2 linked regions of the Homo sapiens genome follow. The protein of the gene in region 1 interacts with the protein of each later gene in a pairwise test. Each region holds a gene or a part of one and is shown on either strand. Other genes may lie near its edges.

What was found. The genes of interacting proteins can lie anywhere in the genome.
Region 2: the proteins of DYNLT3 (region 1) and C2orf15 interact in binary tests that used the Homo sapiens proteins (3 or more experiments, as listed by UniProt).

The regions. Positions count from the first base shown.
Region 1 is NC_000023.11:37,838,336-37,845,313, forward strand, and holds the end of DYNLT3 (dynein light chain Tctex-type 3), read right to left. Parts: intron 3,571-6,978; coding exon 3,447-3,570; intron 2,771-3,446; coding exon 2,693-2,770; intron 2,317-2,692; coding exon 2,240-2,316; 3' UTR 501-2,239; downstream 1-500. UniProt on the Homo sapiens protein: Acts as one of several non-catalytic accessory components of the cytoplasmic dynein 1 complex that are thought to be involved in linking dynein to cargos and to adapter proteins that regulate dynein function.
Region 2 is NC_000002.12:99,137,162-99,145,315, reverse strand, and holds the start of C2orf15 (uncharacterized protein C2orf15), read right to left. Parts: upstream 3,610-8,154; 5' UTR 3,379-3,609; intron 3,032-3,378; 5' UTR 2,915-3,031; intron 1-2,914. Other genes in the region: TSGA10 (testis-specific gene 10 protein), read left to right, coding at 4,177-4,248.

The DNA of each region.
Region 1 (6,978 bases):
TTAATTATGTTGTAATGGTAAATACTGGATTTGGGCTGCTATTTTAATGGTATTTATTCTGCATAATATGCATAATATATCTATGTGGTCCCATATTCATTTATCCTATTTAGAATTGCTTTCTTTTTTCTTTTTTTTTTTTTTTGAGACGGCATCTTGTTTTGTTGCCCAGGTTGGAGTGCAGTGGCACGATCTCGGCTCACTGCGATCTCCGCCTCCCGGGTTCAAGCAATTCTCCTGCCTCAGCCTCCTGAGTAGCTGGGATTAGAGATGTGTGCCACCACGCCTGGCTAATTTTTGTATTTTTAAGAGAGATGCGGTCTCACCGTGTTGGCCAAGCTTGTCTCAAACTCCTGACCTCAAATGATCCACCTGCCTCCCAAAGTGCTGGGATTACACAGGTGTGAGCCACCACCCCCAGCATTTCTTCTATTTAGAATTTCTAAGAGCAAGCAGAATGTCATTTCTCTAACTATTAAATGATTATCCAGAAGCAAAAGTACAGCACAGGAAGATAATATTTATTATATTTTAACTAGAAACAGAGCAGATAGCAAGTTCACCAGGTAAAAATTTTTTTTCTTAAATTATGCTTAAACAACAATAATAAAAAACAAGTCTGCATGTATATTTTGGTCACTATTATGATCTTCCAGGGCACAAAAGCCAGCAGCATAAAGAAACATGAATAATGACTGAGAATTTTTGATGTGCCAAAAACAAAGATCACTGCATTAAACTCCTTTATTTTGTTAATATTATTCTTAAACATTGAACAATTATTAATTATTGTTATTTGGCAAAATATCAAACATGCACATAGTATTCCTACAAGAATATTGCCTTAATATTGTCAATATTAACGCTAAGCTTATTCCTCTCCAAAATTCAATGAGTTATGGTTCCGCTCTCTATATGTATTAGTGTTAGTGGTAATATGCAAAACTGATTTTGTTTTCAGGGTTAAGTAGCAGATTGACTTCGCATTTGGTGGCCAGCTGTGTACCCTAATTTTTCATCTATTTTCTTAATAAATTTAATTACATTTCATAAGCCCTGAGATAACGTGCTAAGGATTGTATACTTTTAATCTATACTTTATTCCACTCAATTTGAACCCCACATAATAAGTCTTTTAAGTTATTTACAGATGGTTGTAACTAAAGCAATGACAAAATTTACTACTTGTATAGGTAAGACTGATAATAAGGCCTTTAACTAAGAGTTGCATATTTTATATGCACTTTTAACTTGCTAGGAGCAACTCTTAAAATTACATCTATAATTCTGTCAGAAAGCAATAAGTGCTTTTCATTTTGCTTACTTCCATATGTGTAACCAGATTCACTTTTTTCCTCCCTTGTAAAACAACTACTTTCTTTTCCTTCCCCAAATATTAATACGTCTTCCAACTGAACAATTGCTAAAAGGAACTTAGCATTTGCACAGCACATTGACAACTATGGTGCTTAGCAGAGACATATGCCCATAATAGGCATCTGATAAATGTTTGTTCCACATGGAATGAGTGAATTGTAAGGCAGCTGTTTGAGTCATACACTGTTCATCATATACTGCAACTAATTTTATTTAACTAGGAAATTCAGTTTACCAGATTTAATTTACCCTCAAGTGTAAATCCAAAAATTTGAAATTAAAAAAAATTGATTTACTAATCCTCAGAAAAAGTAAACAAGTTAATCATAGTTGTTACTATACTATTAGTTGATAGAAAATTAAAAAAATTATTACTTTCCACTAAATATTAAGTACAACTGAGGGGAAGAAAGTTTAAAAAAACTTAAAAATGTTAGCTAATTCTCATCATTTTCTCCACATTTATCCTTGCAGCTTTTTTGTTCATATATTTATTCCTGTTAACTTCTCTAGCTGAAAGAGAATTTTATTATCTGAATGGAGTTCCCCATCACCTTAGGTACAAAATATTAGTGAAAAGCTGGTGTAAATATAAGATTGTATTTTCATGTCATGCCATATTTCTAAATTTATTTTTTGCTAGCATTAAATTTTTCCTATTTAAACGATGCTGTATAGAATATGAGCTAATCTGCCAATTACTATGATATTGCTTGCTTATAATATTCAGTTTTTGTTGATAGCTTTAAAGCATATTGCACGCTTTTCATCTAGCACACTAGTAAACAACTATTACTCTTTTTGGAAAGGATACACTGACAAATTCTTAAGTTAATGGCTTTAGCCCAACATTTTTAGTCAGTTAAAGAACAATAGCAATGGCAAAAACGTTGACAATACAGTTCATGGTCCGGTTCTCCCATCTTACGGTACAGGTTCCTGAAACACAAAAAAAGGATTTTGAAATACCAGCAAAACATAAAAATTATCAGAGAATATATATATATATATACACACACACACACACACACACACATATACACACACACACACACACACACACACACACACACACACATATATATATATATATATACACATACATTTTTCACATGTTTTAATATCTTATTTCCTTCAACCTGTTAAGTTTTCACATTTCATATCGGTCTGAAGGTATACTTGTTACTAGGTACAAAGCAATACTGTTGATAGTCTTTTCAGAATTTAATCAGAATTAAATAAGTACTTGGTTAAAAAGTGCAGTTTGACTTTGCTAAAAGTTGGATTTTGTGTAAATCAGCTTAAGATCTCTTACCATCAGATGTGGTATCCCAAAAACAGGAGCTGGCTGTGTGAAAGCCATATGCGCTCTTCTGGACCACTGCACAGGTCACTGCAAATAAAGTCACAGAATGAGGGCACTTACAGACAAAGGAAAAGAGAACCAAGGTCAAAGTGTGTGAGTTCAGAGCTCTACAAGCCGAAAACAAGACAAAAAACAAACAAACAAACAAAAAACAGAAAACAAAGCGTTCAGCAAATAGATTGAAAAAAAAATAAAAGACTCTCATCTTTATCTACCATCATGATTTTGACCCCACTGGATTCAGTTGGTTTTCTGACCATTGTCATTACCATTGGTGATTGTATTGCAGGAAAAATATCAGTCAAATTCTGTGCTTTGTACCATGGGCAGAATTCAGACACAGAAATGCAGGAAATACTCCACTTTATAAACAGTTGCTGTGTGGAATTACAGGTAAAGAGGCATGGGACTACCGAAAGAAACACAGTTGAGCTAAGGGGGGGTCTCAGTGGAAAGAAAGAACTGATGGAAATGCAAAGGGTGATGCTACCAAAGAAAAGTAGCTCAAACTGCCTTTGAGTAGTGAAAGATCTTCATCTTTTAAGTATTATTATAGATTATCTTTGAATGAGTAAATCAGAAGTCCTTTATACCCTTTTAGTATCCAACTTAAATGTCTATTGTACATATACCTTCTCAAAATTCAGAGAAAATCACAATGACAAAAGCAAGTGAACTAGTGAGGAAGGATACTGATACTTACCAATATATTTATAGGCTTTTCCCAACTTAACCAGGTGTGTTAAGGATTGTTCCACTATGCTTGCAGTCCACTGGTTGATGTTGTTGTGATTATAATCTTCACCACCTAAAACCCCATCTACACACTAAAAGGGCACAGAGGGCAGTTAATTTAGTCAGTAAAATTGTTCAAAAAGAACAATTTTTACACAAATTGCAGTAAAAATTTATTCAAAACATAAAATATACTTATAGCTCAATAAGGCATCTTAGAAAATATACACTTGGTAAACATTGATTATGCACTGTCTCTAATTGCTTAAGAGTTTTGAAAGAGTTTCCACTTGCATTATCTCACTCTATGAGATACTATGGGCCATATAAAGATAAATATGTCATGGCTTCTGTGTAAATAACTTAATCTAGCAGAGAAGCTAATAAAAAAATTCGAATATCTATAACACAAGGAAGACTAATGATAAATTATGTCATAAAAATTATGGTGGGGAAATTAAAAGGTGCTATCAATTGGTTAACAAGTAGCTTTGAAACAGCTGGGATTTGAACTAGGGCTCACATGCTAGAAACAGGATGGGACTAATTTAAAAACATAATTCTTATGTATACTAATTATATTCTCATTCATACTATGTGATTGTTTAGCTATGAAACAACAACTGATTATATTCTCATTCATACTATGTGATTGTTTAGCTATGAAACAACTAGCACACTTGCCACTGAAAGTAAATAAAGATGCTCTAGAAAGATAAAGTCAAATATCATAATTTCCCATAGTGCTTGATTTCATCCACTTCTGACACCTGATTAAAAGCACTGGCTCTAGTATCACAATCCTAGGTTTTAAGGCCTACTTTGACACCTATCTGCTATGTGACCTTTAGCAAGTGACTTAACCCCTTCAAATCCCTATTTTCCTAATCCTTATAGTAAGGATAACAGCATCATCTTATCAGGTTGTTGTTAGGATGAAATGAGACAATGAATACCAAGTGCTCAAACAGGACTAGCACAGAGTTAGCATATAAATAATGTTAACTACTATTATCATATTGCTGCTGTTATATTTTATATTTGAGTGATAAAGCCTGGATAATAAAGCACTCATTTAATTCATTTTTAGAATCTAACACACACATGCAGCTTCATTTACTATCATTAGACTCATTTAATTCATTTTTAGAATCTAGCTTAATAATACACACATACACACACATGCAGCTTTATTTACTATAATTAGACCACAGTAAAGATTTATGAAGGCACTAATACAAAATCTTAAGTTGGATAGTATAAAATCTTCACTAATGATAAAATATGAAAAGAGAAATGAAATATTTTAGCAAGGTTGACAAAAGTAATATGGCTCAAATTTTTCTCCTAGAAAGCTCAATAACATGACAAAGTAGGAAGGGTAGTGGCTTAAGGATCAGGGGAATAGAATTTTAATTCTGGCTTTACCATTCCTAAGCTGGTGACCTTTGGACAAACCTATTCCTCTCTTGAGATCACCTTTCCTTAAGGATAAAGTAAGAGCACTCATTTTTCTTTCAGGTTATTTAGTAGGACCACTCCAAGTTTTGCTCTAAACAGCAGAAAACACCATGGGGTGTGGGTGCCACTGTAAATAGCCCTGCTAATTACTATTAATTAACATCTAGCCTAATTAATTACATTAACATGGAGGCCCATGAGACAATGAGGTCCTTAAACAGCTCTGTATTCTCAGTGCTAAACTCAGGACCTGGGCACTTAGCAGGTATTCAACAAATGTTGTTGAAGCAATATTGGTTTTGATATACTCGCTGGGTATCTTAAATCAAATACACTTTAGACTAAATTCTAAGTCATTTGTAGCTCACTTTTTCTTCGACGATTTTTTGGGGAAGCAATTTCTATTACTAACACTAAAGAAAATGTATGCATATTACTGATAAATGGGTGTCTCTGAGTTCAGAAGGAAAAACATATTAGCATAGGGGCTCAGAGCAAGAAATCAAAGGAAAGAAAATAAGATCAATAAGAAAATAAGATCAGTAAGGAAATCAGAAATAACTGCTGAAATTATGTAATCATCTAGGAAGTGCTAAACTGTTTTAAAATGTTGCTCATTCTCAGGCATTTCCAATGTCTCAATGGAAATGTTTCAATGGCAGAAGAGGGTTGGTTCATGGGAAGAGGAAAGATAGACATTTAGCTGCAAGTAACCTGTAGCAAAGCTGAGTTTCTTTGCAGTCTCATATTTCATATAAAAATTCAAGAGAAGCTTGTTTTGACTACATAATGCATCAGAGTTTGTTTTTATTCAAAAATGTTTTCAGTTATATTATTTATATTACTTAACTCCCTCTCACAAATATTCAAGAAAAACTGATGTTCTAAAATGCATCCAGTGACTTCTAGCACCACCTAGCCACTGCCGAGTATGTATTTCCCAGTTGAAAAAGCATGATTCTTTTAATTTGATATAATATTAAAGTAACAGGCATATGGTTTGAAAAATCCAGTAGAACAGAAAAGCTTAGAATGAAGAGTTTCCTTCCCACCCTTTCCTTTCCCATCCCCAGTCCCATTCCCCAGAGGAAACTCATCAGTGTACAACTGTTTTTATTTCTTCCAAGGGTTACTTATGTATCTCCAAATAATGTTTATCTCACTATTTCCTGATTTATGAATTATAGGCAACATCCATGTAACTCCTACTATGATAGATGAAAATTTGGTTCCCTCAGACCACCCGCCCCCTTCTCTCAATATAGTGAAATCACGATTTTTTAACTTAAATATATTTACACTGTTAGAAACATGTTTCTTTTCCACTCTGGATGTTTTCTTCAACGCAGAGGATTGTTCTTTAACATTCCTGGCCTCTTGTCCTGTCAGTTATTCCTCCCCATGGAGGTGGAATGAGTTACCTGGTTGGTGGGTGATAACCATTGTTCTAACATCTCATTTGGGAGTCTCCCAAATGTGTTGAACTTGGGCTTTAGTTTCTCCTTCCCTCTCCACCCAAACCAATGAAAGGCACCAGCCTGAACAAGTGTTTCTCTCTGCTGACTCAAACTTTCTCTTGGATGACTCTTCCCAGGGCTGAACTGAATGGGAGTTAGCAAAACAAGGTACAATCATCAAACTGGTTTTTATCAATAATAAAGGTGGTATTTTGTTCTCTTTCTAATGGCTCTTTTTTCTTTTCATTTGGTTCAGAACTTAAGGAAGAAGGCACTATTTAAATGGAATCCCAAATAGCCCAGCATTCTTTCTTTTATGTTCCATCAACCAAGGACAGTCTTTCCTGACTTGCCACTTTGAAAACTAAGATCACTCCCTTCTCATTACCTCCACTCCCTCTTCCACCTCCCAGTTTCCCTCATTTGTGCTTTTACATTGTAAAGGTATTAAAAACCTTTGCTTTCTACTTTTAATAATTAAATACTCTCAGGCTACATAGATAGAATGCATAATTCTGAAGTATTCAAATATGGCAGGATTTTCAGGTGCCTGTCTATTCCTCTCAGACCTTGAGTTAATTC
Region 2 (8,154 bases), on another chromosome or scaffold:
AAAATGCTGGGATTATAGGTGTGAGTCACCGCACCTGCCACACAAGAGTCTTTAGAAGTGAAAGAGGGAGGTAGAATGTGTTAGCCATGATGCAATGTGAGGAGGACTTGACTGGCCATTTTTGGCGTTGAATATAGACTGGGATCACAAGCCAAGGAACATGGGCTGCCAGTAGAAGCTGGAAAGGCAAGAAAGGGGATTTTCCCCTAGAGCCTCCAGAAGGAATGTAGACCTGCCTGACATCTTGATTTTAGCCCAGTGAGACCCAATTTGAACTTGTAAATCTCCAGAACCGTGTGATAATAAATTTGTGTTGCTTAAAGACACCAAGTGTGTGGTAAATTGTTGCACAGCCGTAGCAAACAACTCTACTAGCAAGCACTCTCTCCTGTCTCTTTGCCTTATTCGACCCCAGACCTATCACCCCATTGCTGTTCCTCAAGCATATTCTATGCCAAACCTTCTCCTGCTTCAGGACCTTTGCACTTACAGTTCCCCCAGCCTGAAGCAATTTTTGCATTGCAAACCACATCCCTTGAGGATAGTTAGTGACATGGGGCCTGGAACTGTGAAGAATGGCAGACTTCTGCTGCTAGTCATGATGGAGTAACAGAGACCAGACTTATCCTCATGCTTTCAGCATCTTTTTTTTTTTTTTTTTTTTTTGAGACAGAGTTTTGTTCTTGTCCCCCAGGCTGGAGGGCGATGGCACGATCTCGGCTTACCGCAACCTCTGCCTCCCGGGTTCAAGCAAGTCTCCTGCCTCAGCCTCCCGAGTAGCTGGATTACAGGCATGAGCCACCGTGCCCCGCCTGCTTTCAGCATCAAAACACAAAACACATGAAGCAATGGCTTTTAGATATTGGACAACAGGCAGTTCGGGAGAGTGATCCTTGAGAAACAGGAAATAAAGTGAGCCCTATGAATGGACATTGCCTGGAACTTTCAGGCCTCGGCATAAGGAGGAAACTCTCTGATTTAAAAAACGGAACACAGGCCGGGCGCGGTGGCTCATGCCTGTAATCCCAGCACTTTGGGAGGCCGAGGCGGGCAGGTCATGAGGTCAGGAGATCGAGATCATCCTGGCTAACACAGTGAAACCCCGTCTCTACTAAAAATACAAAAAAATTAGCCGGGCGTGGTGGTGGGCGCCTGTAGTCCCAGCTGCTCGGGAGGCTGAGGCAGGAGAATGGCGTGAAGCCGCGAGGCAGAGCTTCCAGTGAGCGGAGATCGCGCCACTGCACTCCAGCCTGGGAGACAAAGCGAGACTCCATCTCAAAAAAACAAACAAAAAAAAGGAACACAGCATCAGTGAGCTGTGGAACAAGATCAAGTGGCTTAACACATATGGAATTGGAGTCCCAGATTTTTTTTTGAGGGGATCAGGAAGAGGACAGTGAAAACAAAACAAAAAATAGTAATAACAGAGGTTTTTGTAGTGAAGCTTTTGAAATGATGGAAAAATTAAGGGACTAGAAAACCAAGACCTTAGAAGGTGTCTGTCACGAGAGAGCAAGCACAGGGTACTATATAAGGCTTAGCCTGGGCCAGGCACAGTGGCTCATGCATATAATCCCAGCACTTGGGATGCTGAGGTGGGTGGATCACTTGAGTCCAGGAGTTCAAGACCAGCCTGGGCAACATGGTGAAACCGCATCTCTACAAAAACATACAAAAATTAGCTGGGCATGGTGGCACATACCTGTGGTCCCAGCTACTCAAGGGGCTAAGGCAGGAGAACTGCTTCAACCTGAAAGGTGGAGGGTGCAGTGAGCTGAGATCATGCCAACGCACTCCAGCCTGGGTACAGGGCAACAGAGTGAGACTCTGTCTTAAAAAAAAGGAAAAAAAAAAAAAGTCTGGGCGCAGTGGCTCACACCTGTAATCCCAGCACTTTGGGAGGCTGAGGCGGGTGGATCATGAGGTCAGGAGATCAAGACCATCCTGGCTAACACAGTGAAACCCTGTCTCTACTAAAAATACAAAAAACAAAAAACAAACAAAAAAAAAGCTGGGCGTAGTAGTGGGCGCCTGTAGTCCTAGCTACTTGGGAGGCTGAGGCAGGAGAATGGCATGAACCCGGGAGGCGGAGGTTGCAGTGAGCCGAGATCGTGCCACTGCACTCCAGCCTGGGCGACAGAGTGAGACTCTGTCTCAAAAAAAAAAAAAAAAAAAAAAAAAAGGTTTAGTTGGGGCAGGGTGGGACACTCACTACCCCTTGGGTTTCCACAGAGGGAAGGAAATTTTTACTTTCTCAGGTTAGGGGAGAAAGTCAACAGTTCTTGATAGGAAAAAAAAGGAAAATCTTTTCACCCTCTTTTGGCCTTAAAATGATCATTTCCTTATATTCTTTCCAAATAATCTTCAGTACCGTCTAGGTGGCATACATAAGTGCTTAAACTTTTCTTATTCTTTCTATAAGGGAAGTACTTTCCTACTTCCTATATTAATAATCTCCCCACCCCCGAAGTCTTCAACTCCAGCTGATAGTTTTAAACTTAGAACATTCTTTCCTATTTGTTTTTAATAATGCTAGATAATGTATTCAAAATAATCTTAGTATCTGAAGAGGAAATGAGATTATACATTATTCCCTCTAACATAACTTCTCAGTTTGTTATTTTGTGCATTTAAAAAATTACATTTCCGAGGATATGTGCTCCTTGTGTCCTCTAACCTCTTAATCTAAAATAACAGGGACACTTAATTTTTTTTGGTATCTAATTATACTTACAAAGTATATGATATCTGAAAATAAATGCGACAAAATATGAGACCATGTAATAACACGATGAAAAGACATTGGAAAAACATGGCATTTATATTAAATGTATTTTTATGACTAAATTTGTTCTACACAAAAGTTGTTTATCCCTGCCAATGATATCTTGTGGGGGGAAAAATGAGTACTCACCTGGCGAAAACAGGAATTGTTAGTCTCCTCAAACGAGAGCTTACTCTTGAAATACACAGCGTTCTACCATATCAAGGTCATCAGAGAATTGCTGTAAAAACCTAGTGTCTATGTCATCTGCAGGAAAAGGAGATAAAGTCACCATTATCATCCAGAAGCTCTTGAGTTATTTAAGAAGGGACATGGTAGGTATTAAGAAAAATTAAGAAGACTTTTTTCCCCCCCATTCTGGGCTCCAAAAAATTGGTAGAAGAATGCAGCGCTCATTCTTTTTCACTAAAAAGCTCATTTGTCACTTTAAGGTGAGGGGATTTGGAAAAGGACTGGCATGTGGAGAAGGAATATCGGTCAGGAATCTGGACTTTGTTGCTAGATCTGCCACTTCCTGATTCAGCCCTGATCGTGCAGAGCTGACCAAGGCCGTGGTCCCCAGGCTCCCCTGACTCCAGGCTGCCCACGCTCACCGGGACAGGCCGGCTCGCTCCCTGCAGGCTGCAGCGGGAGGGCTGGACCTGGAAGCCTCTCTTAAAACGGGCCCTGGCTGCAGCAGGAGCTGCGCCCGAAAGCAGCTCTGAGAGTAACCGGTTCACCGAACATGGGTCCAGAATGATGCCCAAGCCCTGGGAAAAGTGGCACAAAGCCACCGCCGCGAAGCAGCAGGTGTTTCAAGCTGAGGGAAGGCGGGGCTGCGAGAGACAGCCTTGCGCATGCGCGTTCCATCCAGGTGCGGCAGCCTCAGGCAGAGATTAAGAAATGAGTCGTGGAAAAGGGGGCTAGCGGCTGGTTACTAGGAGACGGGACGCTCGGCTCGGGCGTCTAGGCGCTGCGTGGGCGTGCGCCTGCGCGGCGCGGATGGGCCAGGAAGGGGTCCCTCCTAGGTGCCCTGTAAGGCAGGCAGGTAGACGTACGCGTCGCTCCGTGCGTAGGAGCGCGCGCACGGCTTGTAGACCCCGCGAGAAGGAAGGTCGAGCCAGGTACGCGTGCGCACCGGGCCTGGGGGCGAGCGGGACGGAAGCAAAGCTGGGGCGCCGGGGAGGTGGAAGACGAGCCCCACTCCGGTACAGAGCGTGAGGGCGGGGCCACGGCGGCACTGGCTGGCGCTAACCGCCCCCTCCTCCTTCCCGCGGGCTCCGTCCTTCCTCCGATCCGCCGGGGCGGGGCCAGGACGATTTGGGGGTGGGAAGGGAGGAGAAAGGGGCGGAGGATGGAGAGTGGGCGGTTCTTGTATCCCCCGCTGAGGCCGAGAGCTGACAGTCGCGGGGATGAGCTCTGGGCAGGACGGCGGGCCGAGGAGCCCGGGGAGGGACCCGGAGCTCCAGGTAGAAGCTGCGGAGGTGCGCGGGGTGGGGAGAGTGCTGCTACTGGACTGGAAGGTCTCTGAGAAGGCGGCTGCAAGCGGGCAGGAGTGGCGGGTGCGGGGCCGTGGCGGGCGGAGTTGGGCGCTAGCAGCGGGAGCGGCTGTGAGGGGCAGCGGCGGGCACAGCTGCCGGCCGGAAGCTCGGCAGCACGAGTTGCCCCTGTTTCTTGGGAGGTTAGGTTTGAGCCCAGTTCCTATGGTCACTGCTTCGCGTCCTCCCGCAGCTCTCCGCTTGGTTGTTGGGGAGACTGTTCAGTTTAGAAACGCTCTGGAAGCTCTGGTGGAGCCGAGGAATTTGGAAGTCACAGATTTGGGAGTTCAGCCTGACTCCCGATCGCTCATTTCTGAGCCTCTTTCTAGACTTGGGGTGGTGAAAGGCTGAGATTACATAGGCATTTGCATGAAAATCTCAGATAATTTTAGTAAAAATTATACACAGTAAAGGCAGGGAAAGCTGGCTTTTGTTGAAAAACTATTTGAGACTTAAATTGGATAACTAGGTGATCATGGACTTGATACCTAAAAACTCACAGAAATATGGTTTTTTTTCACTTTTTTTTTTTCGCAGCTTCGGGAAAGTTTGCATAGATTATAGTGTCCCAACGTTTTCCTTCTTCCATTCCAGGACCTTATATCCTAGGAGATTTCCTTGTTTAAAATTTTCTGTACTGGTGTTCAGCATTTCAAGTATACTTTGTTTACGTGTAAGGACATAAGTAGAATAACAATAGGTTTGTAAGTAGAAAAAAACAGGTTAGTTATAGAAGTAGGATGTCGCATTCGAATCTGCTTCCAGGATAAGACAGATTCTTGTTTGTATTTTAATTGATTAATGAGCCAAACTCTTCAGTCTTAATTAGTGGGAAATAACTAGGACGGTACATTAATTAAATATTAATTTTAAATCCTAAACTTTGGCATTATTTAATGGCAGCTTCCACAATATCTCGCGTACTGTTTACCTTCTGAAGAAAAATCACTGCCTGTAGCCCAGAATATAATCAGGTGTAGAGATTCTCTGGGAGATCTTTTCTGTCTTCTTTTTGAGTTGCTTAGACTAGTTTGTTTAGGACGATTTGGTTTTGAAGTCCTCCATACACAGAGGCAGTTAGAGGTATTACTATTTATCACCTTTTCAGATTACATATTTCTTTCCCTCCCCAGAGATAGCCACTCTCCTGACTTCTAAGATAGCCACTTCCTTGATTTTCCTTAATGTTTCACATCATTGTATGTGAACATGCACATTACAGTTTGGCTTGTTTTTGAACTTCGAATGGAATTGTACTAAGTATTCATTTACATCTTGCTTCTTTACTCAACATTTTTTTTAAGATTAATCTTTATTGTTGCTCGCAGTATTTAGTTTGCTGATTGTTTCCCAAAATATTTATCCACTTATTTTTATTATATAAAATACTCTCTCAGAATTATTCATAAATCTTGTATGGTTTTCCACATCCTTCTGTTAGTGAGGCAGTTCCTTTCTACTTCAATGTCTATAAGTCTACACTTTTGGAGACAATATTTTTAAAAAGAAAAACCCACCTCAACTGTAGTAAGCTTTTGTGGAACCAGATTTCAGAATTCCATTGAAGTACTCCAGTATTTTCCATTCTATCAAAAAATCAATAATTTGTTGAATACATATTATGTGCTTCATATTTTGCTCAACACCGATGATACTTTTTATTATATAATCTTAGCTCCTGTTTCACTGAAAAATTAAAATTCAACCAGACAGAAACTTCCTCAGATTTCCATGACACTTACCTTTTTTTTTTGAGACATGATCTCACTGTCGCTCAGGCTGGAGTGCAGTGGTGCGATCATGACTCATTGCAGCCTTGACCTCCCGGGCTCAAGTGATTCTCCTATCTCAGCCTCCCAAGTAGCTGGGACCACAGGTGGATGCCACTATGCCTGGCTAATTTATTTTTTAATTTTTGTAGATACAGGAACTCACTATGTTGTCCAGGCTGGTCTCAAATTCCTGGGCTCAAGTGATCCTCTGGCCTTGGCCTCCCAAAGTGTTGGGATTATTGGGATTACAAGTGTCTAAATCTTCACCTGTCCTTGCTTTTGTCTTTCTTGTGTCGGGGCAATACATCTTTATCTGGGTTTCCTCTTATTACCTCAGCTGTCTTTCTCCATCAATTAACATTAACTCATGCCTTAGGAATCTTCATTGTTTCTGTACTGTAGGGCTTCTTCACCTGGAGTCCAAGGACCTTATAGAGTCTTAAATCCCCTGAAATTGTTTGTAAAGGTGTATTTGCATTTTTCTGAGGAGAGGATGCAGGACTTTTAATTCTGAAAGAGGATCCTTATGTAAAGAGAATTAAGGAACAAGTTTTTCTCTTCCCATAATGACGTTTCCACAACCTTGGTTGTCTTCCACCTTTGTTGTACCTCTCTTCCTCTCACAATCATGCTTCCTAAAAGAAGTTTACATTTTCCATTTCTTTTTCTTTACTATTCATTCATTAGTCCCCTTCAGACTTGTTTTCACCCACCATTGAAACTGCTTTGTTCGAATCATTAAATTTTCTTATTTTGAAAATGTTTTATTGCGTTTCACCTTTGTGCTGGGCACTTTTAAGGCATTAGGGATAAAACAGAGACAAGACAAAAGCCTAGAGCTCTTGAATTTTATATTCTAGTATGGGGAGATAGTAAACAAGTCAGCAAATGATATAATTTCAAGTAGTGATAAGTGCAAATAGCTTATCACTTATTTGAGAGAGTGACTAGGAGAGAGGCTACTTTAGGTAAGAAGTCAGGGAAGACCCTCTGACATTTCAGCCAAAGAGCTGAGGGTGAGAAGATAGCCATGTGAAAGGCTGGGTAGAAAGTGTTCCTGAGAGAGGAAAAGCAAGAGCAGAGGACCTGAAGTCAAATGTTACTGGCAAATATCTTAGTCCATTCAGGCTGCTATAATGAAATAACATATAAGCAACAGAAATTTAATTCTTACAGTTCTGGAGACTGGGAATTCTAAGATCCAAGTTGCCAGCAGAATCAATGTCTGAGGTTTTTTGGTTCATAGATGGTACCTTCAGACTCTGTCCTCATATGTTAGAAGGGGCAAGGGAGCTCTCTGGGGCCTATTATATACAGGCAACTCATCATGGCTGTGCCTTTTTTTTTTTTTTTTTGACATGGAGTCTCACTCTGTTGCCCAGGCTGGAGTGCAGTGACACGATCTCGGCTCACTGCAATAAATCCCTTCTAATTTATTAGCAAATGTTGTTGGTTCAAATATATATCCTAAATCCATCCACTTCTCTATATTTTTGTTACCACCTCCCTGGTCCAAGTCACCATCATCTCCCACCTAAAATACTGCAACCATTCCCTGCTATCTTTCCGCTTCCACTGTTGCTCCCTACAACCTATTCTCCACACTGATATCATATCAATCACTTCAAAATAATGAGATCCTGTGGGAGGGGAGAAGGGAGAGGGAAAAAAAAATGAAAAAGAAAATTATAATAAGATGATCCTGGCTCAAAAATACACCAATGGCTTCCCACTGCAATTAAAAATAAAATCCAAACTTTGTAAGGCCTTACATGATTTGGCCCTTGTCTTCACTTACAAGATCTAGTACTCCCTTCTTTGTTCGCCCAATAGCTTTTTCTTTCTGTTCCTCTAATGTGTGGCTTCAGTCCGAATTTCTGTGTCCTCACAAAATTTTTAGGTTGAAATTCTAACCCCTAAGGTGATCACATTAAGAGGCAGAGTCTTGGCCGGGTGCAGTGGCTCACGCCTGTAATCCCAACAGTTTGGGAGGCTGAGGCGGGTGGATCATGAGGTCAGGAGTTTAACACCAGCCTGGCCAAGATGGTGAAACCCCATCTCTACTAAAAATACAAAGTTA